Linked DNA regions of Homo sapiens: region 2 is linked to region 1. Evidence: fine-mapped expression QTL. A gene starts in region 1. The other region holds a variant in brackets. All regions are shown on one strand. Distances are between the middles of the regions.

Region 1 (15,026 bases):
ATTTCTGAAGTGTTTTCCAAACACTAGAAGTTGTCTAAATGTCCAAAAATCAAGGTTGATTGAATAAACGGCAGTATTTATGTGTTACAGAATTTCAGGCCGCCAGAAAACACAATGTTCTGGAAGAATATATAATTCCGTGAAATAATATTCACTGTGTACTAAGAAAACTGTGTAAAAAATATTTACAGGATGAACATATATGTGAAAAAAGATGTGAAAGATATTAACAAAATGCTAAATGTGGTGAACTCAGCGTGGCAGAATTGAGGAACATTCTGTATTCCTTTTGCTTGTCTCCCCATTTTGTATTTTTTTAATGAACGAGATTTGGTGATGAGAGGCCGTGGGCACAGCCGTCAGGGCAGGTCCTCTGGAGCACACCACCTGGATCCCAACCTCAGCTCCCATGGCTGCCTACAAATCCCAGGACAATTGCCTGCAGGCCTCCTTGCCCCAGGTTCAACGTCCTTAAATCCAGGTATCGACTGCCTCCTAGGGCTGTTATGAAGATTAAGTGAGTGAGTATATGGGGGAACTTGGACTAGTGCCTGGCCCTTAGTATGGGATGTATCAATATTACTTATTGTCATTACTACACTGGATCAATAAAATGGATAATTATCATTCAATCGTGCATTCATGTCATTTACCAACTGTCTGCAAAGCACTGTTTTCAGGGCTGAGAATTCAGCACCAAAGTGGCCTCTGTTCTCACGGGGCACACAGTCTGTGCCTGCTGGGCCTCGCCCCTCCTCCCTGTGCGTCTTTTGGCCTTTTGTGCTTCTCTTTCCTGCATGCTGCAGCTCTTCTCTCGGCCTGGAAGCTGCTGAGGAAGTGCCTGAGCTCTCTACTGGTCAAGTCCATTCCCAGCAGCTGGAGGGGCCCATCTTAACGGCTATCCCTGCTACTTCCCTGATCTGCCTGCCTGCCTTCCTCCCTCCCCTCCCCTCCCCTCCCCTCCCTCCTTCTCCTTCCTTCTCCTTCCTTCTCCTTCCTTCCTTCCTTCCTGACAGGGTCTCCTCTGTCACCCAGACTGGATTGCAATTATACAATCAGAGCTCACTGTAGACTCGAACTCATGGGCTCAAGCGATTCTCCCACCTTAACCTCTGAATCCCTTCCCTCCCCTCCCCTCCCCTTCCCTCCCCTCCCCCACTCCCCTCCCCTCCCCCCTCCCTCCCTCCTTCCCTCCCTTCCTTCCTTCCTGACAGGGTCTCCACTATCACCCATGCCGGAGTAGTTATACAGTCAGAGCTCACTGCAGCCTCGAACTCATGGGCTCAAGTGATACTCCCACTTCAACCTCTGAATCCCTTCCCTTCCCTCCCCTCCCCTCTCCTCCCTCCCTCCCTCCTTCTCTTCCTTCTCCTTCCTTCCCTCCCTCCTTCCTTCCTTCCTTCTCGACAGGGTCTCCTCTATCGCCCACGCCAGAGTACAGTTATACAGTCAGAGCTCACTGCAGCCTCGAACTCATGGGCTCAAGCGATCCACCCACCTCAGCCTCCCAAGTAGCTGTGACTACAGGTGTGTGCCACCATGCTGCCTAACTTTTTGATTTTTTGTAGAGATGGGGGTCTTGCTCTGTTGCCCAGGCTGGTCTTGAATTCCTGGCCTCAAGCTACCCTCTCCTCTTGGCCTGCCAAAGTGCTAGAATTATAGGCGGGAACCACCACACCCAGCCATGCCCAGGTTCTCTAGCCAGAAGCCTGGGGAGTCACTTGGGACATCTCTGCCATGCCCACCACTCCGGAGTCCCCATAGCCTGTCAGTTCTACTTCCTGGATAGCTGCCAAGCCCCCCACATCCCTGCCTTGACAGCTGCTCCTGAGAAGCCAGCCACCCCGGCTCTCATCTGGATCTTCCCAGCCACTGCCAAGCTGGCTCAATTCTCTCTGCCAACCTGGGTCCTCCCCCAGCTGTCAGAGTAACCTCTTGGTAAAATGCACATGGGATATGTGTGTGGAAGGTGAAAGCCTGCAATTGTTTTCAGAGGGAGGCACAGATCCCTGGGAGAGCAGGCACAATAGCCCGCTACAGCCCCCACCTTTCGCGACCTGCTGTTCAGAGACCTGTGTGCTTCCTTTAGGAGATAGCGCTGGCCTTGCATAAAATACATTTTTTCTCCCACTGTATCAGCAGGGACATCCTGACATCTCACCCCGTGAAAACATTCAGCTCCAAATTCAGTATCTCAGCAAGCCCTTGGTCAGTTGGGCACCCGCAACCTAATGGCAAATAGAAAACACCCTCACCGCAGGGAGGAGTGGAGAGAGAACAACCCACCCCCGCCGACCACAGCAGAACACAGCGAGCAGTGGGCTCACATCCCCAGGAGGACAGCGAGGCTGCCACCTGACTGCAGTACGTGCCTGGGTCCGCACCCTGGTCAGCCGCCCCTCCTCTCTGGGTAACGCCCCTTTTTCTATTGCCCTCCTCCGACACCCTGGGTGCCCCGCCATGCAGGATGCCCCTTCTATGGGTCAGGCCTCTGAAGCAGTCCCAGGACTGGTGGCTTGGTGTGGGGTGAGAGCCGAGGACTCCCTCAAGGGTTACACCATTGCCATCCCCTGCGTTTTTGGGTAGGAGTTAAGGTGATGGTGTGATTCCTTAATAGACTTATTTAGGTTTCAAAATCTAAACTCCTGTCAGTTCTGGCTAGTAATCAAAACCAGCCCATCAACAACAACAACAAAATCGTCAATCCGTAGCGTGTGTTGCGATCCAGAGCAGAGCTTTCTGTTCCCTAGCAACCGAATTCAGGCTGCGCTCACCCCCCATCCTCAATTTCCATCTTGGTCTCTCTCTCCAGGCCTCTGGAAACAAGGCCGGGATGGGGCTGGACCAGGCACCTGCCCTTGCCTTCGGGCTGCCCGGGGGTGGTGTCTTTGTAATTACCTCAAGGTTGCTGTCCCAGGGAGACCCCATCTCTTCAATCTGATCTCGGACCCCACACCTCCCCCCTGCCTCCCCACTCCTCAGGTCCGTCTACTTGTAACCTGGGGTGGAGAATTCACCTTTTCTAGCGTCACCATTTTCAGACTCTCCACCATTCTAGACTCCAAGTCATAAGCACCAAGGGCTCCCCTTCCATTCCCTTTTTCTGGAAATATTCAGCATGTAATGAACCAGGCACTGCTCTCCCATAGCCCAAGGTTCCCCGCCATAGCCCTAATGTTGCGAGCACAAAAACCTCAGTGTCTGAGTTCCTGGATACAGCAGGCCGGGTACCGCACTGCACCCCTTCTCCTCTGCTTGGGAGCCCTCCCCAGCCACCCCATTGTCACCACAGCCCCTGTCCTTTGGCAAGAAGCCTCCAATATACCCTCCCAAAGTCAAGGTAGACTGCATCTCTCTTCAAACCATATTTTTTAAAGAAAGAAAATTACTATAAACCAAATTATTGGGAGGGCAACCAGCATTTCAAAAATGAATTAGGATACAATAGAAAACATCAGAGTATTTTTGGGGTAAATATTGCTTCGGAAAGTTTCACTCCAAGCATGTTTGTGCATGCGTGTGTGCATGTGTGTTAAAGCATGTGTGTGCATGTATGTGCGTGTGTGTGGATGTGTGTGCCTGTGTGTTCACGTGCGTGTGTGTGTTCATGTATGTGCATATATGTGTGCATGTGTGTGTGTGTTTGTCCTAAGGATGGACCAAAAGGGCCTGGAAACCAGTCTCCTGGAAGCCTTCCCTGGCACACACCTTGCTGTGTTCTAGAGTGTGATTTTAGGGTAAATGCTCCTCTCTTGTGCTCCAAGAGTGCTCTCCTCTCCCTCCCATCGTGACGCTTGCCACACTGCACTGGAATTGTTTGTTTCCTTGTCTGTTTCTCAAACTGACTGTCACTTTCCAGGGGGACAGAAAATCTATGTCTTGTTGGCTTCCCCAGTCCCAGTGCCTGGCCCAAGTAGTTGCTCAATAAACAGAGGTTGAATGAAGGAATGTCTGGCACAGGAGTTCGGGATGGACAGGATGAATTGGAATCTGTAACATTTTAAAAGCCACATCCTTTTTAGCAGGAAAAAAGGCTTCAATGAAAGGAATGAAATTGTAAGGGTGGAGACCTGGGCATCAATGGCTGACTCCACAGAATCCCATTGAGGGAGCCCCTCCCTGCCAGGGTCCCAGGCCCACCCTGCACATCCAGAGGCAAGAGGTACGTCCCTCATGGCCACCCCAAAGTTGTCAGGAGCCCCAACTTCTGCAGAATCACCTCCCTGCCAGGAAAGAGAGCGGGGAGAAGCTGCAGTTGAGAAGATACTAAACAGGAAAGTCAGCGTTTTAATTAAACAGGATTCAAAATTGATGGGAGAAAACAAGCATGGACACAATCATATTAACACAAGAATCCCGTCAGAGCCCCTGGCAAGGAAGCTTCAGTGCACAACAACCACTGGGACGGGGGTTAGAGGACTCGCAGTGAGAGGCTGCCTTTCTTTGCTCAGTTTCTCCTAAAGTGTTGTGTGTGTGTGGATGGGAGAGTGTGTGTGTGTGTGTGTGTGTGTGTGTGTGTGAGAGAGAGAGAGAGAGATTCAAGGAAAATATGTGTGTGTGTGGTGCTGTGTGTGCATTGGGGCATGAATGCTTGCATGCATGAGTTGTGGGTGAGTGTACGGCTGGGGACAGTCCACATCCCTTCACCTCCCTGGACCAGGCCTCAAGATGAAGGGATGATGCTTCTTCTCCCTGGTTGCTCAATCTGACTTGCAGGCCCTCTACTGGCTCCTCAGAAAAGGGTCTCCAGCGCCAAAAGAATCTCCTGGGGTGCTCAAGCCCCCAGCCCTATGCAGGATGGAGAATATCTTGTGAGTTCCAGAGGAGGGGTTCTATTAGTCGTGTGCACGAACCTGCAGGAAGGCAGAGCTTGGGGTGGTGCTGTGGCAGCTACCGGCAGGGGCCAGAGCCTCTCCAGGCAGCAGGGCCATCTGGACATCCTGGACTGGGGAGCGTATCTCCTGGGCTGTAGAGGGAGGTGCAGAGGGGACATGACTAGGAGGGTTGGAGATGGGGAAAGTGTCCTTGTGTCCTTACAAGGCTCATTTTCCCCCCATCCTTTGCTTGTTATAGGAGTGAACCTGTCTTGCAGATGATCGTTGACTATGCAGGTAAAATAGATTGCGATCATTGTCATCCTGCTCAGAAAACCCACCTGGATAGGACCAGTCCTGGGACTGGGAGCCCGGAGACGCCACTGAGAGCCGGTCCTGCAGGGACTCCAGGGAGATGAACCAGGAGATGGCTCAGCAAGGACCAGGCAGTGGCAGAGGTGCCCGAGTAGAGTGATCGTGGGGCAGAGGACTGAGGGAAAGTGCGTGCCTGTGCCTGGCAGTGCCGCCCCAGGTGGAGGAGGAGCCCTCAGGGTGGTGGGCTTCCGATGAAGGGTGACTCTGCTGGGGTCTGAGGCTGTGCTCCCAGTGGACTCAGGGACCCCACTGCACAAGCCCGATTTTGGGTAACAGGGCACACCTAGGGAACAGGCCCAGAGCACCCTCTCCTTGGAATAAACTCCGGATCCAAGTCCCAGAACCCACCTTAGGAGGCGTCTGCCGCCCCCGCCCCCTCCCCAGCCTTCCAGGCCCTGGCTGCGGTGGATGGGGGCGCGGAAGGCCCAAGTGCGCGAACTTCACCTGGCCCGGCCGTCCTCCCCGTGGGGGGCCCAGGCTGCGGGCGCGTCAGGCCGTCTCTGTCGCCATCCGGAGGAGCGGCTTGGGCGCCGCGTCCCCTCTGCCAGGCCCGGGTCGGCGGGCGGCTGGAGCCCCCAGCGGTGGCGGGCGCGCGCCTCTCTCGCGGATGCCGGGGCGCGCGTAGCCGGGGCGCGCAGTGACGCCCAGAGCGGGGCCGGCGTCCCCCTGGCGGGCCGGCGCGGGGTCGGCGGGCGCGGGCGCGAGCGCGGGCGGCGCGGGCGCGGCGCGGGGCGCGGTGGGCCGGGGCCCGGGCGCGGCGGCGGCGGCGGCGGAGGATGGCGCGCGCGGGGCCCGCACGTGGAGGCCGGCGCGGGGGCGCGGGCAGGGCCGGCTGCTGAGACGCGCTGCTGCCCCCCGCGCGGGCGCCGCGGCTTCAATGGCGCCATCGCCCAGGACCGGCAGCCGGCAAGATGCGACCGCCCTGCCCAGCATGTCCTCAACTTTCTGGGCGTTCATGATCCTGGCCAGCCTGCTCATCGCCTACTGCAGTGAGTACCGCGCGGCCCCGGCCCCGGCACGGCCCTCTGGGCCCCGGACCCCCTCCTCCGGCCCCGGCAGGCGCCCCGCGGGCCTCCCGGAGTCGGCGCGGAGTTACGAGCGCCGGGCGCATGGTCCCCCGAGTCCCGGCCGGTCCAACGCTGCGCTGGGCGGGCGAGAGGGTCCACCCGGGTTCCGGGCGCTCGAGCACTTCGGGGTCGGACGCCCCGGCCCGAGCCTCCCTTCCCTGACTCCCCGGCAGGGCCCGGGCTCCAGGCCCCGGGTGGCGCGGCCCGTCCCTGCCCGGCGGTCGGAGCCCAGCCAGCGGCTTCCCGGCCGAGATGCGCGCTCAGGAGGCAGCCGCAGGTCGCGGAGGGCGGGCGGCGCTGCCGGGGTGTCTGCGGAGCGCCCTCCCCGTGCCTCAGCCCGGGACAAGGGGGGAGGCGGCGGCCGAGCCCGGAGAGGAGCTCTTCAGGCAGGAGCCCAGCCTGGGCTCGGAGGAGCAGCTGGAGCTTCCGCTTTCCCGGGAAACGGGCTCGTCAGGCGCCTTCTGGAAAGAGAAGCGAAGTGAGGGATGGGATGCCCGGAGGGGGCTCGCCGCGGCCGCGGACGTTTCTCGGGTCGTGTCTGGGGCCCGAGCTGGTGACCGGCGGGACTGGCGCGGGCGCGGGCTGGGGTGGTGCGGGCCAGTGGGCGCCCGGGCGTGAGCTGAGGGCTGGGGTAGGGGGTGACCGCCGCGGGCTCCCTGTTGCCTGGAGTGAAGGGTGGGGGGTGGCCTGTGCCCCTGCCGAGGCTCCAGGCGGGTGGAATGAGGGGTGGTTGGAGTCCCGGGTGCAGACTCCAGCCTCGGCGCTGGGGAGGGTGCTCAGCATCCCGGGGCACGTTCGCGGCTGGTGGGGTAAGTGGGGGCCGCTCAGCGTCCCGGGCACAGGCTCTGGCCCCAGATGGCGCGGGCTGGTCGGCTTCAGCTCCGGGAGCTCCGGGCTTCTTGTCTTCAGCGGGAGAATAGGACGGGTGCTGGGGAGCACCTGTCATGGAGAATTGCCATGGGCGCGGGAGGTGATGGAAAAATATGGATTCTTTACAAAAAAAAAAAAAAAAGGCCAGCACCGAACCTCCCTCCACAGACACCACCTCCTCCAGAGCCCCGGGCCTCCAAGCTCCCAGTCCGATCTGATCCTTCCGCTGTCGCCAAAATGAGAGCACAGTGGCCCAGGGAGACCCGGGCAGCCGCGGGATCGGCCTCCGGAGTCCTGGGACAGCCCAGCTCGCCAGGATCGCAAGGGAAACCCGGGGACCAGAGCAGGAATTTTCCTACTTGCTTCAGCGCGGTTATGCATTTCCCTAGAAATGCTGTGGCACCGAGCGGGGAGGGGTCGCCAAGCCTGGGGGTCTCAACCCGAGCTGCCCAGGCAGACGAGGCCACCGTGGGTGCGCCGGCGCCCCTGGGAACTCACTGGCTGGCCGCCTGCAGGGAGCAGGGTCTGGGGGTTTGAGCGACATTTGTGCCTGCCCCCGAGTTTTCCGCGGCCGTCACGGGGCCTGCAGGGGTATGTGGGGGGATTCCCTAGAAGATCCCCAAGCAAGGCTTCCTAGGAGATGTAGAAAGGGTTAATGGCAGGTAAACTCTGTGCGGAAGAGGAGGCATTTGAATGCACTTCCTGGTGGCATCACCCCAGAGGAGAGGAGAGAGAGGAGAGGAGAGGGAGAGGGGGCTCATTCAGCAGTGTTTGGGGAGGGGCTGTAGTGCCCTGAGCCCACTACAGGCGGCCCATCCCTGGCTGGCTGCTAGAACCCAGGACAACACCTCACCCCCAACCCCCAGCAGCTCAGCAGGTGTGGAAAAGAACAACTGCTAATTGTTGCGAAGTACTTGACACCAGGGCCCTGTGGCTTCAACACCGCACTTCCCGAGCCCGCGAGGAGCGCGGTACACACTGTCTCAAGACACGCAGCGTCAGCCCTCTCCCACCCTGCGCTGCATCCTGAATCCTAAGGTGTCAGCACGTTGTTCATCCGGACGGGCTCACACCTTCCTGAGACTGTCGCCTGCTCTGCCGAGTGGAGTCCTGGTGTCCCAGCACAGACATCTGAGCCTGCTGCTTAGACACGCTGAGGATGGGAGATCTGGTTTCCACACTCATCCCTCCTCCTTAGGAGGCCTCCCCAGCGTTCTGGAAACAGCCTTTCGCCAGGACAAGGACAATTGGTAAGAAGGTCTTACCAGAGTAGCAGAAATAATTAATAACAGAAGCTTGGGTGAAGCACATTTTTTATGGCTGTTTCCATCTCCATGTAATGGAATAATTGACAATAAGAGACACACCCCATTACACCAGAAATGTACTTGGAGAAATTAAAACATTTCACTAAAATACAAAATAGACATAATAATAATTTATAGCTTGGAACTGCAGTCCTAGAGAAAAAAAATCCCCCCCCCTTTTTTCAGAACCGATAAAGCAAATTAAATGCAAATTAAACAGTTCCTAGGATTTTCATTCTTTCTTCCAATAGATCTGGGATGAAGAAGAATAGTTCGTATTCTCGTTTGTAAATTGTTTTTGTCATCAGTAAGGATTTTTATTACTCAAAATGTCTTTGTGTTATGAAGCAGATATATTTGTATCATATTAATTAGGGAAACTGATAAGTATCATACAGCGTTCAATTATCCTGCCTATTAAATCTGTGTGTTTCTCTGCAACACATAAGGTGCTGGCTTCCTAGTGCAGCTAGGAGGAAACTGGATTCTTTCTTGGCCTGGTTTTCTGTTGGGGGGATTCTACTGTTCTTGGCCCAGTGAGAGTCCGGCCTTCTTTCTTTCTCGTGTGCTGGGATCCATATAGAAGGAGATGGGCTCCACCGTCTGGCCGGAGAAAGACCTGCAGTCCACCAATTAGGCTAGTTGCTATAGTGACACAGCCTTGTCATTTTCTCCTCCTGGGGAAGAAGTGCCAGGAGACGCAAACAGGGGAAAGGGGCCCTGGATGGCTCACTTTAAAATGCATGCTCGGTGGTCTGCGACCATCACGGTGACAGCAGGCTTGGTTTCCTCCGCGGCCGGTGCTGCCCATGAGGGTTGTTGGATGGTTGGTAATAAGTTGACTTGCATGATGATGAGCTTTGATGGGGAAGTTGAAGCTCTTCTCCATTCTGGTCTGAGGAAACCTCTCTGGGTGTGGCTTAAAAAGAGTTGATATAGGTTGTTTTCCCCTTAGCGTATTTGGAGTAGAGAAGTCTGTCTGCCTAGATGTGGTTCTTGCCTAGATGTGGAATGGGACCTCTTGACCCAGCTAGAGCTGGTTGAGGGTGTTCTGTGCCCGCCGCTGAAGATGTGATCTTTCCACCCTGGCATCTAGGATAGAACAGCAGCAAGGGAGAGAAGCAAATGAGGACCTGGGGCAACTCCCTATGACACCTAAGCACTGACTCGGTCCTTGTGTGCAGCGTTGAAATCAAAGGTGAAGGACACTCTGCACTAGCCTAGATTCCATGTGCCCTATTCAGCACGAGCAGGTGGATGGTGGGGACCCAGACTATATTTCAGCGTACCAGGGAGAGTGAGGAAGACAGACAGGTTCACTATGTGCTGGACATGGAAATTTCCAAATAAATCCCGTCAATATTGAGCTGTACCTTCCAGTTAAATCTCATGTCCTCATCTATAACTATGAGAAGAAATTACAAACAACTTTGGAATTGTTTTGAATCCATTAGAATCCTAACTGAGCGTAGGCACTGTAGTGTTGCATTTCCTTTATAAATACAATTTATTGCATATTTAGGAGCGATTAGAATATGTTACTTTCCTGCTGTTCAAATTTTGTTCTGGAGTTCTCGAAGAGGTAAAATGGAAAACAGTGGAGGCTTAATGAAGTGGTGCCGTTCAGAAGTTTATTTCTCATCTTTTTTTGAAAAAATTCTCACTGTGTTTTTATTTGATGAATTTGGGGCACAAGAAGATGGGATGTTTGTTTTTTTTCAGCTCCATAAATATAAATTATCTGTCTCTGGGATTTCTTTTAGCCGACATCCATGCCCTAGGCTCAGTGAGGAAGAGGCAGGTTTGTCCCCTCACAGGATTTTCCCACGCAGGGACCCCTGGGGGAAGGGACTTCCGAAGGGACCCCTGGGGGAAGGGACTTCCCAGCGGCTCTAGACAGTGCCCTGGAGAGCCGCATTTACTCCTGGTGATCCTGGCGGTGCCCCACTGTCCCCTCCCACCTTCCACCCCTGCTCTTTCACTGAGATAGGGCCAGAAGGGGGGTCTCCACTCTTCCACTGTCCACACAGGTGTCCCTGCTGGACCTCCCTGAGGCCAGAGGACACTTGAACCCAAGAAGGAGGCTCCACCTGATGGGTCTCTTCCATACCAGGCTCCCCAGCTAAGTTCTGCCCCAGAGTTCTGAGCTCAGGATCTGCCACTCGACATGCTCGGAATGAAATATGTAGATCAACTTTTGTGGCATGAAGCATTTTCAGGTGACTTTTATGGGCGTAATTATGGGAAAATGTTATGATAATGTGGCACTAGAAAAGGGAAGAAAAGCAAAACATTAAAATCCCCATTTCTTTATATAGGCTCGCATCTGCGCCGATTTAGAAGGGCTCCTTTTTGCATTAAAATGTGGCGCTCTGGAGTTAATGACCTCTACAGATTGCCACCTGTCACCCGGAGCACTGTCAGCGATGGTCCAGCCCCAGCATTCAGGGTGGAGATGGACAAGGAGGACCAGAATCTGATCAGGTGGCCGGAGTGAGCACTGGGGTGTGGAAAGCCCTGTAGATTGATGACTGTTTGTTAGGAGAACTGTCCTTGAGGCTGTGTCAGGGGCCTGTGTTGGTGCAGATGCAGGGGGCCCATAGCGTCTGGTGTGTCTCTTCTTAAATGCTGCCTTGCACATGGTCCTGGGGCTTCTCCACTGACAAGGGCCCCCTGATCTGCCCCCAGTGTGGATGGTTTCTGTGGAGGCCCTGGATAGGCCTGGAGCCCAGGAACAGCAGCTCCAGCCACCCTGCTCCTCCCTTCCGGACTTCTCCGCCCTAGAATGTGCTAAGACTCACGGCAGCAGCACAAGCTGCCTCGGTGCTGGGCTTTCCAGAAGCGGGCCTGGCAGCTGGCAGCAGATCTGGGCGACTATTCTCGTCTCTCCTTCACCCCGGCGAATGTGGTAGAGGGCTCCCTGAGGCTTTGTAGCGTTTACTTATTTATTAAAATGGCTGGCAGGAATCGGGTGTGGAATTACTTTTATCTCCAACTAGGCGAGCGGGACTCCTCTGGAATCCCCTGGTCCTCCTGGCTCCAGGGAGGCTGAGTTCCAGCTTTGTATGCCAGCAGCATCCTGCGGGACGGTGGGTCTGGGCCCAGTGGGATGGCAGCCCCGCAGTGATTCTCCCTGGAAGAGGCCTCCCTGTCCCTTGGCGTGTCACCTGCCATGGGGTGAGCCTCCGCTTTGGAGGGGCCTGGCTCTGCGGGTCTCCTTCCAGCACTGCTCGAAGGAGGCAGGAGTGGTGGAGCTGGCTGCAGGCTTGCGGGTGAAGCTGGAGACGTGGCTTCCAGGGTATTCATTTAATTAGTCTTGGGTGAGCTCTAGCCATGCGCCAAGCCCCGGGGGCAGAGATGGTCACTCTCCTGGAGCTGACATTCCAGAGGGGAGGGGACAGTCAGTCGGCACAAAGCAAAGGCCGAAGATGATGGGGGAGCAGCCTGGGCTAGGCCCCTGTGTTCTGGTGGGTTCTTCATGCTACCCTTCTGTGTCCCAACCCAGCCGCCACCTCAGAATGTCAGGGACCTCCCAGAGGTGGTGAGAGGCAGCCCAAGATCTAGCTCTGGATCTGGTTTCCATCTGGGGAGGCTCCTCCATCCTTGTTCTCCCTTCCCTGGGCTCCCTGTGCCCCTGGCCCTGCACCCAGCCGGCATGTCCATTCGTTGTCCCAAAGACATCTTGCCCGTCCTCTCTCTGTCTGGGCTGCCGTCACTTGAGACCTCACACCTGCTCTCCCTCCTGAATGTAGCAGCGTCATCCTCAGTGGCTTCTCCGCCTCCAGGCCCCTGCCCTGAACCATAACTTCCCTTGGAAGAACCTGGCTGCCTTCGACCCTCCTCCCCGGCTCTCACCCTCTCCCCTGGCTCACCACACTCAGGGCGCCCAAAGCTGAGCCCTCCGGCCCAGGTGGGAGTCTCCATCCCTCTGTCCAGCCCTGGAGTCCAATCCTGAGAGCAGCCTCCTGCCTACAGGGCCTTCTAGAAGCTTCCCAGGAAGCTGCTTGTGCTCATTCCTCTCCCACATACTCCGGATTGGACATAGGTGCTGTGGTGCTCCTATCGCCCGTGAAGGCCCGGCTTACTCCCTAAATGCAGTGGATGCAGGAAGGCATGGTGAGCTAGGCCAGAAAGTGCCCACCTCATGTCTTAGAGGATCCCCTGCTTCCTGAGGCATCCCCTGAGCATGCATCCCCATCCCCTCTCCAGTGCTGTGCGTGTGTGTTGTGGTGGCCACTGTCGGGGTCACTTTCTTCCTTGTTTTGGGCTGTGAGCTTGGGGCATGGCTGCTGGCCTCGGGGGACTGACTGTGGGCTCTCTGGACAGATGCTTTTGGTCACGGCATCTGCTGGGCAGTGAGCTGTTGGGCTGTGAGCTTGGGGCATGGCTGCTGGCCTCGGGGGACTGACTGTGGGCTCTCTGGACAGATGCTTTTGGTCACGGCATCTGCTGGGCAGTGAGCTGTACGGTGAGGCAGCCACAGGGAACCTCCCAGCTCTCAGTGGGCTGAAGCTCCAGAAGGTCACGTGGATGTGGAAACCCTTCTATACAATGATGTCAACCCTGCAGGCAGAGGAGCCAGGGGAGTCAGGGACGCCTGACCAGCTGTGGGGGACAGAGGAGGGCCCACTTGTGGTAGGCGATGTCTTCTGACGTCACCCACTCCACCCAGAGCTGGGCACAGAGGGGTCTGGCTCTACCTCTGCTGGGACTGCCTGCTCGTTTAGGGCGCTGTGTGGTCCTGGTTTGCAGGTGCACCGCAGGGAGAGTTGTGAAGGGCAGGCGGGGTGGTCCAGCCATCAGGGGCCCTGGTTTCCTGGGGGTTAACGGCGTAGGCTGTGCCACCTAAAGGCACATGCAGGAATCTGTCGCCCACAGCATCTTCATGCTTGGTTCAGGATCTCTGAATGAATATAGGAAAGAAAATACAGAGAAAGCAATACCACTAACACAGTAACAGGCTGCTGTGCTTGCATTTCACCTTCCAGAAAGAGGCTTGGCGCCCCCTCACCTCCCAGCCACCAGGGGAGGAGCTGCTGGACTGGAGGCCCCCTCCTTATGGGGAGCGGTGGGGCTGGTCCCGCACAGGGACTGCAGGCCTGCCTGCCTGACTCCAGGTCTGGGCTTCCTCCCGGTGCCAGCTCCACTCCCCACGGGCTCGGGGCTCCCCAGCAGTGGCCCATCCATGGAAATCAGCCCTGCCAGGGACCATGGCCCCGTTCCGCCCCCGCCTGCGGTGTTCCAGGCCGCGCCTCCCTCCTTCCCGTATGGGCGGACCTTGCCCTGGGTGGAGGGAGGACGCAGGGAGGAGAAGCCGGGGCCTGCGGTCCCACGGGGCCCGGCAGGGTTCTTCCATCTTCAGGGATGCTCCGCAGCCTCGCTGCTGGTTTCTGGGCCAGCCCCTTGCCCCTGTTTCTGCACTCGTAGAACAGCTCTAGAAAAGACGGCATTTCCGCCTCAGCGCAGCCAAGAAGCTTGAAAGACAAGACTGGAGTGTCCAGTGGCCAGGGGTCATCAGTCTGGGTTTAGGCCTGGGGGCGGGGCTGAGGCCTGGGGGCGGGGCTGAGGGTCAGAGGAGTAGCTGGAATCCTGGGGGCGGGGCTGAGGCCTGGGGGCGGGGCTGAGGGTCAGAGGAGTAGCTGGAATCCTGGGGGCGGGGCTGGAGGCCTGGGGGCGGGGCTGAGGGTCAGAGGAGTAGCTGGAATCCTGGGGGCGGGGCTGAGGCCTGGGGGCGGGGCTGAGGGTCAGAGGAGTAGCTGGAATCCTGGGGGCGGGGCTGGAGGCCTGGGGGCGGGGCTGAGGGTCAGAGGAGTAGCTGGAATCCTGGGGGCGGGGCTGAGGCCTGGGGGCGGGGCTGAGGGTCAGAGGAGTAGCTGGAATCCTGGGGGCGGGGCTGGAGGCCTGGGGGCGGGGCTGAGGGCAGGGGCAGGTTTGGAGGCCTGGAGGCGGGGCTGAAGGGTGGGGTGGGGCCCACCTGGAGGCGGGGCTGAAGAGTGGGGTGGGGCCCACCTGGAGGCGGGGCTGAAGAGTGGGGTGGGGCCCACCTGGAGGCGGGGCTGAAGAGTGGGCTGAGGGTAGGAGAGGCTGCAAGCCTAGGGGTGGGGCTGCAAGCCTGGGGGCGGGGCTGAAGGGGCAGGGCTGGGGGCCTGAAGGCGGGGCTGAAGAGTGGGGTGGGGCCCACCTGGAGGCGGGGCTGAAGAGTGGGCTGAGGGTAGGAGAGGCTGCAAGCCTAGGGGTGGGGCTGCAAGCCTGGGGGCGGGGCTGAAGGGGCAGGGCTGGGGGCCTGAAGGCGGGGCTGAAGAGTGGGGTGGGGCCCACCTGGAGGCGGGGCTGAAGAGTGGGCTGAGGGTAGGAGTGGCTGCAAGCCTAGGGGTGGGGCTGAAGAGGCAGGGGCTGGAGGGCTGCTGTCCTCTTGCAAACTAAGTCTCCTGGATTCCAAAGATATCTTTGGTTCTAACAGTTTGATTAATAATAATAATATGTGGAATACCTGGGAAGAGCTCAGAATTGGTAGGTATATTTAGTAGGACTTTTCTCGTTGCTAGAGTGGAAAACTCAAACCCTCCTTTTGGCCTCTTTTTCTGGACTTCTGC
Region 2 (15,026 bases), 88 kb after region 1:
AATCCCCTCAAATGGTATGCATCGTTGACTGTTTAGCTGGGTATAAAATTCTAGGTCTTCTATCTTTTCCCATCAGAATCTGAAGTCACTGCTCCACTGTCTTTGAGAAGCCAGTGTTTCTAAAGCAAAATTCAGTATCAGCTCATTTCTTTCCTCAGAACATTTTTTTGTTGTTGTTGTTTGCTTTTTTTTTTTTTTTTTTTTTTGAGACAAAGTCTCGCTCTGTTGCCAGGCTGGAGTGCAGTAGAACAATCTCGGCTCACTGCAACCTCTGCCTCCTGGGTTCAAGTGATTCTCCTGCCTCAGCATCTGGAGTACCTGGGATTACAGGCACCCACTACCACGCCCAGCTAATTTTTGTATTTTTAGTAGAGATGGGGTTTCACCATGTTGGCCAGGATGGTCTCAATCTCCTGACCTCGTGATCTGCCTGCCTTGGCCTCCCAAAGTGCTGGGATTACAGGCATGAGCCACTGTGCCTGGCCTGTTTTTTTTTTTTTTTTTTTTTTTTTTTTTTTTGCTTTAAAAAAAAATTCTGCAAGGTTTTCTTGCATTGGTTGGATCTAGGGGTCTGTCCATTAGATCTAATCAGAATATGGTAAGTCTCTACAATCTGAAGATGTGCATTTATTTATTTGACTATTTCCTCCTCTTTGTTGCCTTTTATTCTCCTTTAGAACTTCTAATAAATGAAAGTTGGATGTTTAATGTTTAGGATATACCCTCTAGGTCTCAAATTTTCCATACTTTTTCACCTTTCTATGTGCTCTCCACTCTTATAAACATATTTGATTTTACTTTCCACAGCCCAGTCTTCATTCATTCCCATTTTACCATTCAGTGTATACCCTAGACCTTAAAATGGTCCACTCACATTAATTTCCAGGAGTTTTTTTCCTTGTTCTCTTGTTTGCCTTTTCTCCCCCTTGGGAGCCTGGTTTTCTCTTATTGATACCATATTATTTCAAATTTTTTGAGAATGATACTATTTAGAATAATCACAATTACGGTTATGATTATTTTCCCTGAATTATTTCTGTCCCCTAAGGTTCAAGTGTAGAGTATGCACAGCTGAGCCTGACTTCTCTTTCATGCCTCTAGCTTTCTGCAAACACCTAGTGATCTCTGCCTGCTAGGTCCTGTCTGTATAGGAATAAAGGTTGAAGTGTGTGTAGTGACCGGTCAGTGTGAATCACCTCTACCCTGTGTAGCCCAACAGGCTTCTCACTTGACCATGAGCACTTACTGTATTCCCTGGGAATGAGCAAGGTGTGTAGACAGATGGGCCACCCTGGAAGTGGGCATGCAGCCGATGGGCAAACAGGGTCCCCACATTTGCTGGTGCTGGCGGCTTGACCCTAGGGACAGGTGTTTTTGTGCATTTCACTCTTGGGAGGAATTGTGCTACCTTTGGACCTGCTGACCCTGCTTCTCATGAGTGACCAAAGTCCTTAACTCTGCTCTGCCCTGGTTTTTTCTTAGACCTTGAGTTTTTCACTCCAGAAGCAGGTTCCTGGCTTTTTTTGTGTGCCATGGGCCTGTTTGGAAGTCTGGTGAAGCCTGTGCCACCCATCTCAGGACAAACTAAAAATACCTGATGAAGAAGATCAATTATATCCACATGCAGTTAGCAAATGGTAAAAAGCCTATTTTTGATACAGTAATGTGTTTTCTTTATGAACACATTACATACAAAGTCTAGTAGTGGGACGACCATAATTTGAAGTAATGGTGAAAATAAGCAATAGACTGAGATAGCTACAAGAGCTGTAATGTGATATGAAAATACCTGTGCTTTTTGTTGGTGACAAAGTCATAGTTATGGCTGAAGTATTGTGTTTACTGCCTACATGCCTAACTGAAGGCAGTGTTAAATTTCGTTTAGAGACATGTTAAATGCTCACTTTCTCCATCCAAAGTCCCACACCTCAGGCACTGTGGGGACTGTCCCCGGGCAGAAGGCACCCCCTCTGTGGACAGCTTTCCTCTGGCCCTGGTCTGAGCTACACTAGCCTTAAAGCAGCAGTTTGCAGGGGTTTGGGGGAAGACACACCCACCCGGCACTGTGGAAGTGCAGCTCTTTGGCCAAGTGCCCTCCTGCCTGGACACCTGGCCATGCCCCTGGTTTGTTTCACCTTCTCGGGAGGATGTGGGCATCCTTCTGTTGGTTCCCACCACAGTTTTTTCTCTTCTGTCCAGAGACTGGGCCCAGGACCCCCTCACCCTTTCTGGCTTGCTTAGATTTTGATTAGCATTTTGATTCCCAACACAGTAATGGTTTCAGTATTTGTAAAGGGTTTTTCCTGTCATGTCAATGAGAACCCTAGGTGTCTCCTCCTGAGATGTGTGTTGGTTTTATCTGGTTCAGGTGTTCACACTGCCATCTGGAGCTGACTTCCCAATGGCACCCAGGGCCTCTTTGGTCTGCACTGTTAACTCACTCTTCGGAAGCCCTACACGAGGTTCTTGAGTTTGCAGCTGTGATTGCTTTTAAAAGTGTAAGCAATGCCACATGCATTTACTAACAGGAAGCCTTGGTGCCCGGAGAAGTGTGATGGTGGTCCCCCAACATTAGGTATGGAGGTCCTCCTGTCCCACCTGTTGAAAGTGAATTGGTGGGCCTGCCTCTATTTATGAACTTTCTTTTTTTTCTCCTTTATCCTCTTTAATTCTCTTTACAGAAGGATCTTCCAATTGTAGTTCTTAAATATTCCCTTGGTGAACGTAGCACACTTTTCTATTTTCAGAATTTCAAATGATATGCACCTGATTGGGGACACAGTGAGTGTCAAGGGCAGGCTCTCTCTCCTGATTGAGGTCCCTTTGGGGGCCAGGGGTGAGCACATGTGATAAGCACCCAGAAGACCCCCGAGTCCTCTGACTGGGGAGCCCTGTGCCAGGTGAGGGATGAAGGCCAACGACCTTGCTGGAGGTCAGGCTCTGCGAGCCAGGCAGGGTGGGTTCCTGAGGAGCTGCTACCTTAGATCTTTCCTAGAGAATGTCTAGGGGTGGAGAGCAGGAAACAGTGGGGTGCTTATAGGAAATGGGGTTTTGAAGGGGATTGCCTGAGCAGAGAGAATGGCTAGTCCCTCCCAGGGCAGATCCACAGCTGCTTAGTTGCTTGGCTGGTGTGAGGCTGGGGCCACTCCTTTAGGTGAGAGGAGTTGGATGGGACATTCTTGTCTCTCCTGGATGTTTTCGGGGGCAGGTGGAGGGTGATGAGCCAGAGGTGAAGAACTGCTTCGTGGATGGCCTCTCCCCTGGCCGGCTGCTGGGCACCGCGAGCCAGGTCAGGCAGACAGCATCAAGCTTAGTGGCTGGTCCTGACTCTGCCCTTGACTTTTTAGTTGATGTTAGACCAGTCACCATGCCTCTATAAGCCTCAGTTTCCCCAGATGCATACTGATTGCCTTGATCTATCTGACCTCCAAGAGCCCTTCAGGGCCAGGCCTCTTTCCCTTCCTGGCACGTCAATACTGGTGCAAGGAGGAGACAGCCTTCATGTGAACCACATGCACCGCGGGCACCAGCACTGCCCCCACCCTGCACAGGTCAGGAGAGAGGTTCAGGGTCCCAGGAAGCTTAGGCCCCGATTCCTGCCCACTGCTCTTTTCTGGTCATTTGAAATTGAATTTCAAATTCAATTCAGGCAAAAATACCTTGAGGCCCACCACACTGGTCTTGGTACTGGGCTCTGGGGCGAACCCCTGACGAGGACACCTGTGCCCCCTGCTCTGGGGAGCGGGGTTGGGGAGCAAAAGTGGCCTAAAACAAAGACCCTTTCTTCCTAGAGGCGGGAAGGGAGGCAGTGCAGGGAGGCATCCGTTTGTTTCCTCTGGAACGGAACGTGGGCATTAACAGTGCGCCCACGCTCTTGGGTGCAGGGCAGCTGGCTGGAGGGTGGTACACAGTAGGGGCAGGTGTGAGTGTGTTTGTGTGTGTTTCCAGGCAGATGTGCCGTTTTCAGAAGCCGCGGGACCAGCCTCCTCCGAGCCCTCCCAGCCGCTGGTCGGGCCCGGCTGGGGCGGTACCTGGGCCTGGGGTTTCCCTGTCTCTCCTGGGGCCTTGGGTGCGAGGGAGGCTGGGCGCCACTCGAGGCCCCGCGTCCGGTCTCCCGCGCCAGCAGGGCCGGCTCTGCAGTGAGGCCCCTGCGCACCTAGGTGGAGCCCGACCCGCAGTTTTCGGCTGGGCCGGCCCCACCTGACCCGCCGGCGCGCCAGGCGGGGGCGCTGCAGGGCGGGGTCCCCGGGGTCCCTCGCGGCCCAGTGCGCATCCGCGGCTCCGCGGCCGGGAGGAGCGCAGACGGCGGCGGGCGCGGGCCGGAGTCCGAGGCTGCGCGGGCCCGGCCACCTGGGCCGGCAGCGACTGCGCCGCGCTCCCCCTCCCGCCGCCTCCCCCGAGGAGCCGGCGCCGAGCCGAGCGGGCGGGCGCGCGCCTCCAGGCCGGAGCAGCGGCGTCCCGCGGGCGGCGAGGCGCGCAGCGTCGCCGGCCCCACCTGTAGGCGCGGCAGCCACCGGCACCGGCACCGACACCGGCAGCGGCGGCCCAGCGTGGGCAGCCCAGGGGCGCGGTGGGCCCGGACCTAGTCCCGGCCGCGGCGGCGGAGGCGCGGGCTGCTGGGAGCGCAGAGGCCGGCACCGTCCGGTGGGGACCGGCCCGCCAGCCCCGGGCCGCGCAAGTTCGATCGCCGCGGGCTCGGCCGGGCCGCGCGGACCCCGGCGGCGGCGATGGTGCGGCAGCCCCGCGCCCGGCGCGCAGCCCCGGCCCCGAGCCTGGCCCGCCGCGGCGGCGGTGGCGGCGGCGGCGCGGCGGCCCCCTGAGCCCCGGGCCGGAGCGAGCGCGGGCGGCGGAGGAGGCGGCGGCGGCGGAGGAAGAGGAGGAGGAGGAAGGCGACGCCGAGCAGCGGGCGGTGGGGGCCGACAGGCGGAGGAGGGGGCCGGGGCCGCGCCGGACCCCCCCCCCCCCCGCGCCGCCCGGCCGTTGCGCAATCCGCGGCCCGCCGTCCGGGCCCTGCTGGCGGTGCGGCTCCGGGGGCGGCGGCGGGGCTGATTCATGGGGCCGCGGCGGCCGCCCCCCGGCGCCCCGCAGCCAGCGATGGTGGCCGAGTGGTCGGAGCGGCGGCCGCCGCGGCCCGAGACTTTCTGCTAACCTCCCCGCCCCCGCCCGCCCCCTCCGCGGCGCCCCCCTCCCCCCGCCCGCTCCCCTCCCCCCTGCCCAGAAAGACACAAATCGCCTCCCGGAGTGGCGCCTCCAGTCGCGGCGGAGCGCGGCGTTGGCGGCGGATGGAGGGCGCGAGCGGGCGGCCGCGGAGGCTGCACCCGGCGGGGCGCTGATGCGGCGCCTGGACCTTCGCTGCGCGACTTCGGGGGCGTCGGCCGAGTTGGGACTCCGCGATGCAGCTCCTGAAGGCGCTCTGGGCACTGGCAGGGGCCGCGCTCTGCTGCTTCCTCGTCCTAGTGATCCACGCGCAGTTCCTCAAAGAAGGTAATTGTCCCCGGGCGCGCGGACCGGTCCTCCGCGCTCTGCCCGGCTCGCGGCGGCTCCGGCGCCCGACCCGGCTTCCAGCACGTTCCGCTGCCGCCGCGCTCGGCTGAGGCTCGTGGAGCGCCACTGCGGGCCCGGAGCGGCCGGCGGCGCGACCCTACCAGGAGCCCGACCCCCCGCGGATCTCGCTGCCCCGCGCCCATCGGGGCTCACCGGCAGGGCGCGGGGTCGGGGCGCGCTGCGTTCTCGGTGCCTCTGGCGCCGCCCCGGATCCCCAGCCCAAGCCGAGGCTGCCGTTCCCATCCCCTGCCCCACTGGGCTCGGTGGCAGCGGCGCCCGCCCGCACGCCGCCGGGCCCTCGGTAGATGGCACCAGCGCTCCACGGTGGCCGGCCGGGCTGGGGCGGGAGCGGAGCTGGGACCCGCCAGGGTGGGCGCCGGGCTGGGACCCGCGGACGTCGGGAAACCGGCCTGCGCACCTGTTCCCCAGGGCCCAAGCCGCCTTCCAGAGACCCATAGGTTTGGGAAGCAGGGGCTTGGTCACCGGGGTGCGCAGGTCCCCGCGCCAAGTTCTGCCCCTGCTCTCTTGGTCTTTGCTGGACTGCAGGGCAGTCTGGGACTATTGAGGCGCCCAGGATAACGGTTGGACCCTCGTGGCTGGAGAGGCCCTTTGTACTGGGAAGCATCTTACTGGGGGTTGGGGGCAGGGCCACACCTCCCCTGATGGGCGGTCGGTCGGCTCCAGGCACCCCAGACACACTCCTGGAAACTTCCTGGTTTCAGGGCCAGGCTCCCTTTGCAGGGCTCCCGGTGCACCCCGGGATCAGCCTGGCCTGTCATATCAGACTGGGGGCAACTGAGGCGTTGGCCTCCCCCCGGGCACCCCTGCTCATGGTTACTAGTGCTCTGGCACACAGGCTGGGCCAGCTCCGCCTGGTGCTCCCCTTGGTCCGCTGGGAAGGCTGAGCACCGGAGGGCGCCTGTGTGGCTGGTAAGGCGCTGGGTTCTCATTAGTTCTGGGTTCCTGCAGAGGAAGGGCTTGCAACATTCAGCTGCTTTCCTGACTAATTAATGAGCCGCCGGAGGCCTGGGGAAGCAGGTAGGTGCAGGAGCCCGGCCCGAGACCCTGTGACCTCCACGGGCCTGGTGTCCACTTCCCTCCCTTGCTTTTGGATGTGGGCACCTAGTACAGAGGAGGGCCAGGTCTGAAGGGAGAGTAGGCTACCCCAGGACTCTGCTGCGGGCTTGGCCTGCCAGCCCGGGCTTGCGGGGACCCTTCCCCAGGTGGGAGGCCCAACTTCTTCCTGCTGCCTTGCTGACCCACTTCAGGAGTGGGTGGTTCTGCCATAGGGCAGTAGCACTTGGGGCTGGGGAGGCCATCCTTCCTGCTGAGGAGTCATTGGGTCCAGGCAAGCCCGCGAGGGCTGTCCTCTGCTGGTGTCGCGTGTCAGGACTGTGGGAGCCACCCCTGGTGCATTCCAGGTACCTGGCAAAGGGGTCCCTGCTCTGCTGGGCCTGTTTGTGTTCGCGCTGCAAGTTCTCTGCCTCTCTGGCTGATCTCGAAGTCTCTGGGGGATTGGCTTGCGGAAAGGGCGTGTATGTGAAAATTTCAGTGTTTCTCTGAGGTCCAGGTGCCCAGCTGCATCCTGACACTCTGTGATGAAGTGAAGTTCCACTGACTTTGAAGCTGTGAGTTAGTAACGGGAGAAGCTCCTGGCCATGTGGCCGGCCTGTGACAAGGGCTTCCTTTCTGCCTCGCCCTGCGGCGCTGCCCCAGTGCAGGTGCCTCCGGGGGCTCTGCTGTCCCCCTGAGGCTCCAGGTCTAAAGGACTCTGTTTTTTGGCCAAGAAGAAAGAGTTTCTGTCTCCCAGATGGGAGGGTCTAGGTGTGGAGCAGGCCTCGCTTAGTGGAGTACTTTTTGTGGATTTAGCCCTTCACAGAGATCTCCATGTTTACCTTGAAGCAGACACACGTGTGTCGGTGTTGTGGAAGACGGCGCAGTCATAGGAAGGTGGGATGAGGATGGGGTCAGCTGTACGCTGAGGGCACAGGTACCTTTGGAGGAGCGATTGCGGGTCCCAGTGTTTGCGCAGCCCTCCAGGACTCCTGAAGTCCTGTCTCCCTGTCCGGAAGCGGTGGCCTTCACCACCCTGGGTTGAGCCCTGCTGCCTGTCTGTCTGGAAGGTCAGGACTTGGGCAGCCTCCCTGTCCTTGCTGAGACGGCCTTTTGGCCCCTTGGCATCAGGAGCCCCAGGGGAGGCCTGGGGGACCAGCAGTGAGAGGTGCAGGGAGGGGGGTGGCCGACTCTGGTTCCTGGCTGATGGGCTCGGCCTGGGGCCACTCTCCTCCCAGCAGCCGCTGTCCAGCAGGAGGGAGGGAACAAGGCAGGCGGGTGGACAATTGTGACTTGTTGTCTGGGCCTGAGTGGGAAAGAGCTGTTTAAATAGCCATTTTCATGAATCTGTTTTCTTCAGGGGTGAAGAATGGGGGACCCAGGGAGCCGTTTTTCCACACTTCTCCTTTTGTGTGGAGATAGAGGCCACCCCGTGGCTAATCCGTCCCCCCCTGGCCACTCTGGTCTTCCAGTGTTTGTGGAGATGAATAGGGCTGTGAACCGAGAGAGAGGCAAATTGCGGTCCATAATTGCAGCCTCGGTATGTCCCAGCTTTGTGAGAACAGGTCCTGCCCACCGCACCAGGCCTGGCTGGGCAGCCACAGGCCCAGGAAGAAAGCAGGGCCGCAGCGTGGGGTCCGGCACTGGGGCCTGGGCAGCTGCTCTTCTTGCCTTGTCATCCTTAGGACACGCTGACCCTCCTCTGGGAGGGGAGAGCCGTCCTTTCTTCTGAACTGCCTGGTGTGTGCACGTGCTGTGTCTGCATGGGGTGTAGTTAAAGTGGGGGACGAGGGCGGGAATCCCAGGACCCTGATGGAAGAGCCGGCCGCTTCCTTAGGGTGCAGACGACGTGTGTCACGGAGACGCGAGAGGGAAGCCAGCACTTTATCTCCATCATCATGTTTGGCCTCCAAATACGGAGTTAAGGAAACGGCGAGAAGTATAAAAATATTTTCCACCTCCCTCTTCCAAAGACTTTACAATATTTTTCTGGAAGTCTTGAGTCACTTGGACTCCAGCACTCCAGCACAGAT[G/T]AGCAGGCTTTGGTGTGGAAGCTTAATGTAAACAGAAGGATAGGAAAATACTTCAAAGAGGAAGGAATGCGGCAAGCCTGGGCCACCCAGGCAGGCCACAGCGGCAGAGAGGTTTCTGGGCTTTGGCACCCAAAGGGACATGAGAAAGCCGGGAAATCATTCGGCCCGATCCTTTCTGAATGGGAGGGAGAACCCAGTGCCTCTTTCCTTTAAATGTGGGTTTGAGGTTCAACTCTATCTCGGTAAATCCTTTTGGTGGCAGGGGAGTGCATTCGACGGCTTGAACGTGCTGTGCAAAAGCCTCTTTTGCAGGTTAATATTGAGAACTTTGCGTCCAGCGGCCGCGGCACGGTGTACCCGGGCCTCGATTCCAGAAGCGCTTTCAGAACCGCTGTGGCGTGCCTGTCTTTGAGCAGCTGCTCGGAGGGCAGACTGTTGATTGAGTCAACGGATTCAACTTCCATTGATTTAGTTAGCTGGCTCTTTCGGAAATGAGGCGTCCTCCTGCAAACCCATGTGGCCCGTAACAAGGGGCATGCTCAGCTCCGTGAAGGCAATTGATGGTGTATGAATGGTTATGGCTCCGCGCAGTCATCATTAATTGATGCTGTCTTTACAAGATTAGCAGCCAATGCAGAGTGTTCGTCTATCTGTTAGATGGATCAGTTTATTTTTTAAGAAATGGATAGAGAACTTCTTAGGAGACACAGCACAGTTCCCGGCCCTAAGACTCCATCAAAAATATTTGCTGAATGCGTACAGCCATTCTGTCCCAGAGGCATAGAGCTAGGGCTGTGGATGGTCCATGATGGGTTGGGTGAGGGCTTGGTAGATGCCCTTGAGGTTTCCCAGAGCAGCAAGGCTGTTCTTGGTGAGGGCTCGAGGCTGCACCGGGCTCCATTCTGAGTGTCTAACGGTGGAGGAGGAACTCACTGCACGCGGTGTGTGTGGAAGGAGGAGGGAGTTCGGCAGCTCTGTGTTCTCAATGCTTACGGCCAGCTGTGCCTGCACCCCTGCACCCAGTCTTGGCATGGGGCTGCCCCGGCCGCCAGGCTCCGAGCTTGGAGCTGGCTGCTCATTTCTCCCTGAGTCTCAGACTGCGTGTGGAGGGGTGCTGGGCTTTGTCTAGGGGCCCCAGGGGCTTCCCTAGCCCACTTCCTGGGTGCATTGTTTTTATGGCCCTGATGAGGTGTGCAGGCAGACAGAGCGCAGGGGCATCGCAGTGCCAGCCCCACATGGCAGGTGTCCCTCAGCCTGCCTCTCCCTGACCCTCCAGCAGACGCTGTTTGCAAGGCCAGGTAGGTGTGAATGGCTGCTGGGAGGGGTGGAAATGAAAAGGCGTTAAAAATAACCAACTCTTTTATCATCATTTACTATCATTTCTTGTGTGACACAGAATCTAAATAAAACCCACACTCACCGTAATGGGATTCTCATCTGCTGTGTCTCTGACAACTGTAAAAGTTAGAATATAAAAGGACTGGAAATGGAGGTGACTTCCAGACACAAGGTGGCTCATCACAGCCTTGCTGGGCACAGGAGTCCCAGCCTCCCAGGCCTCCCTGCAAGGGCCGAGCCAGTCCCTGCCGAGGGCCAGGCTGGCAGTGGACGGACGGGGCCAGCTGGGGGTCCCTCCCACTGCACACTCGGGAGGATTGGATTGCGGCTGATCTTGCCGCCGGCATCTGTGGAAACTCATCAGTCTCCCATGTTGCTGCCGTGCTGAGCACAGTGCGAGAAAGCCGTGCGGAGAATGGTTTTATTCCCCACTCGGTGGTCTGGAGGTGGGTGGTTTTTGCCCGTCTCTGGGCGCGCGGAGCTGTAGGAGAGGGGCCACTGGCGAGGCCGTGTCCGTGCTCAGTAGAGTGCTGGCTGCAGACACAGCCCAAGAGCCCCTGGGCCTGGAGAAGGCCGGGTTCGGGGGCAACCTTCTTGGAAGGGTTCACTGCTGACATGTTCATGTGTGTGCATATGTGTGTGTGTACACGTGCCTGCTTATGCATAACTAAATGCTCATAGGTGTTCATATCATTGTGTGTGATCTTCTTAAACATAAACTACAGGATCATGCATTATAAACCTCATTTAAAATACAGCCCCTTCGTTAGGGAGCAGCGCACGCAGGCAGTGGTGTTCCTGTGTTCCTGGAGAGGGGAGGGAGGCATCCTCACCTTATTTACGCAGAGACACATAGTTTTGTGGCTGCACTGCGATCTGAGCAGACAGAAAACATGGAGCGAAGCACGCAGCTGTGGGTCTGCGTGGAACATGGGACTGTTCGCTCACACACGCACCCAGTGAGTGGACAGGGCTCCTTTGAGACCAACCATGGGACCCGGTAGCCTTTGTACTGTGGGAGCCCTGACCTGCCTGTCGGGGCAGGCGGCCCTTTCCTCGTTCTCCTTTTACCTGGGCTCTGTGTGTGAGCCCACCTCTCCCAGAGACACGCACTGCGGTGCCCCCCAACAGAGACACACCACACACTACACGATGCACACACCCACACCACACAAAAAACACAACGCATACCATACACCCCACATACTGCACACACTACACACCATATGCTGCACACCACATACACACCCCACACGCAAAATACACCACATACCACACACAAAATACACCACACACAAAATACACCACGTACCACACACAAAATACACCACATACCACACACAAAATACACCACACACAAAATACACCACATACCACACACAAAATACACCACATACCACACACAAAATACACCACACACAAAATACACCACACACCACACACAAAATACACTACACACAAAATACACCACACACAAAATACACCACATACCACACACAAAATACACCACACACAAAATACGCCACATACCACACACAAAATACACCACACGCCACACACAAAATACACCACACACCACACACAAAATATACCACACACACCACACACAAAATACACCACACACGAAATACACCACACACCACACACAAAATACACCACACACTACACTCAAAATACACCACACACAAAATACAGTACACACCACACACAAAATACACCACACACACCACACACAAAATACACCACACATGAAATACACCACACACCACACACAATAAACCACACACAAAATACACCACACACACCACACGCAAAATACACCACACACACTGCACACAAAGTACACCACACACAAAATACACCACACACGCCACACACGAAATACACCACATGCCACACACACACCACACACCACACACAAAATACACCACACACAAAATAAACCACACACAAAATACACCACACACCACATGCAAAATACACCACACACACCGCACACAAAGTACACCACACACAAAATACACCACACACCCCACACACAAAATACACCACACGCCACACACACATCACACGCCACACACACACCACACACCACACACAAAATATACCACACACCACACACACAGTGCACTCCAAACACAAAATATACACATACCACACACCACATACAAAATACACCACACACCGCACACACACCACACACTATACACACACCACACACCACACACAAAATACACCACACACCACACACACACCACACACTATACACAAAATACGCACACCAGTGCACACCAAACACAAAATATACACATACCACACACCACATACAAAATACACCACACACCACACACAAAATACGCCACACACACACCACACACACAGTACCCACCGCACACAAAATATACACATACCACACACCACATACAAAATACACCACACACCACACAGTGCAACCAAACACAAAATATACACATACCACACACCACATACAAAATACACCACACACACCACACATCACGCACACACACCACACACCAAATATACACACACCACACCCCACACACGAAATACACCATACACAAACCACACACAAAATACACCACACACCACACACATGCCTCACATCACACACAAAATATACACACGCCACATCCCACACACACCACACACAAAATGTGCCACACAGACACCACACACACAGTACACGCCACAGAAAATATACCATGCAAACATACCACACAGCACACAACACACCACATACAAAATACACTACATATATACACACGCCACACAAAAAATACACCACACACACACGCAACATCATACACACACGCCACACACCACACAAAATAAACCTCATACACCACACACACACCACACACCACACACCATACACACACCACACACAAAATATACCACACACACCATATACACCTACCCACACATATAACACACCACACACCACACGCCACACACCACACACAAAATACACCACATACACCACACATACCAGACACCACACACCACTCACAAAATATATCACACACACACACCACACACACACACCAATCACATGCACACACCCCCCCACAAAACATCACATACATCATACACACACCACACACCACTCACCACACAAAATACACAACACACAAAATACACCACATACACCACACACATTGGACACCACACACTTACAAAATACATCACACACCACACACACACACACCACACACAGCAGACAGCAGACCACACACACACAAAATACACCACACAGATATCACACACACCACACACACCGTGCACCACACACAGTACACACCACACGCACAGTACACACCACACACATAGATACACATGGCACACAAAATATACTATGTAAATACACCACACACGTACACACCACACACAAAATATACTACACATTCACACCACACACAAAATACACCACACACACACACACATACACACCACACAAAATACACACACATCACACACACTACATGCCATGCACCACACGACACAAAATACACCTCACACACACCACACCACACACGCATGCACACACACCACTCACAAAATACATCACACATGCACCACACACACAGCACAAATCACACACACATACACCACAAACACACACCACACAAAATGCACCACACACCCCACACGCACCATATACACGCACCCTCCACACACACACAACACACCACACACATCACACACGCTACATGCCACTCACCACACAAAATACAGCACACACGCATACACACGTATACAACACACAGCACACAACACGCTAAATACACCACATACCACAAGCACACCATTCACAAAATACATCTCACACACACACACCACACACACACACACAAAATACACTGCACTGATATCACACACACACCACACAGAAAATACATCACACACATTCACATGTACACACACACACCACATGCAGAATACACCACACACACTAGATACCACACGCACACCACTCACAAAAACATCACACACACAGCATACACTACACACACAGCACACACCACGCACACACACACAATACACCACACAGATGCCACACACAACAAAATACACCACACACTAGACACCACACACGACACACTGTGCACACATACCACATGCCAAACACCACACACACACAGAAACCCACAAACATACCACATACACAACATACATACACAGATAATATACCACCTAACCACACACAACACACACACATAAAATACACCACATACACATACAAAATATTCACACACACACACATAAAATACACCACATACACATACAAAATATTCATACACCACACAGCACACACCACACACACCACACACCACATACACACACACAACACATCACACACATGCCACATCCCACACACCACACAAAATACACCACACATACACCACATACAAAATACACCACATACACCATACAAACTAGATACCACACACCACTCACAAAAAACATCACACTGCTCATACCACACAGCACACACCGCAGACACACAATACACCACACAGATACCACACACAACAAAATACACCACACACACTAGACATCACACACACACTATGCATTATGCACACACACCACACACACCACAAACATACACAACGTATACACAGACACAGAATATACCACACACAACACACACACATAACATACACCACATACGCATACCAAATACGCATACCACACACACACCACACATACCCTGTGAAGGCCACGCACACACAAAGCGCAGAAACACACCCCCACACAAACACATGCCAAGACACACACACACAAACATACACCACATGCATGTTATACACACACAGCCAAACATCATAAACACACGTTACACCCATCACACCGCACACACACGATACCCCAAACACCACACAGTCTGCAGCTCACCCCGTGGGCCCAGCCTGGCGTTCTGGAGGAAGGGAGAGGAGGGTGGACCCCAGCTTCGGCCTCTGCCCCTGCAGCCTTGTCCCCATCCTCACCCGGACCCTGACCCTGGCCCTCGCTGGCTGGGCCTCTGCAGAGGCT

Which allele goes with the higher level. Positions count from the first base shown, and alleles are read on the strand shown. Sizes are in standard deviations (SD) of each study's normalised expression.
In carriers of allele T in region 2, the expression in aorta of the gene that starts at base 6,027 in region 1 tends to be higher than with G alone (moderate effect, 0.43 SD a copy in GTEx).

Evidence for each region.
Region 2: its variant is fine-mapped to the expression of TAFA5 in aorta (GTEx, PIP above 0.99).

Annotation. Positions count from the first base shown.
Region 1 is chr22:48,483,527-48,498,552 of GRCh38, forward strand. It overlaps TAFA5 (TAFA chemokine like family member 5), which reads left to right and starts at 6,027. Exons shown (of 4, transcript NM_001082967.3): 1 at 6,027-6,178. The coding sequence starts at 6,067. RefSeq lists enhancers at 8,105-8,610, 11,580-12,440, 13,303-14,162.
Region 2 is chr22:48,571,088-48,586,113 of GRCh38, forward strand. All of the region lies in intron 1 of TAFA5 (TAFA chemokine like family member 5), which reads left to right. LOC124900480 (a long non-coding RNA gene) reads left to right here and starts at 5,953. Exons shown (of 2, transcript XR_007068144.1): 1 at 5,953-6,582. RefSeq lists an enhancer at 6,059-6,565. The variant G/T (reference allele first, on the strand shown) is at 8,631.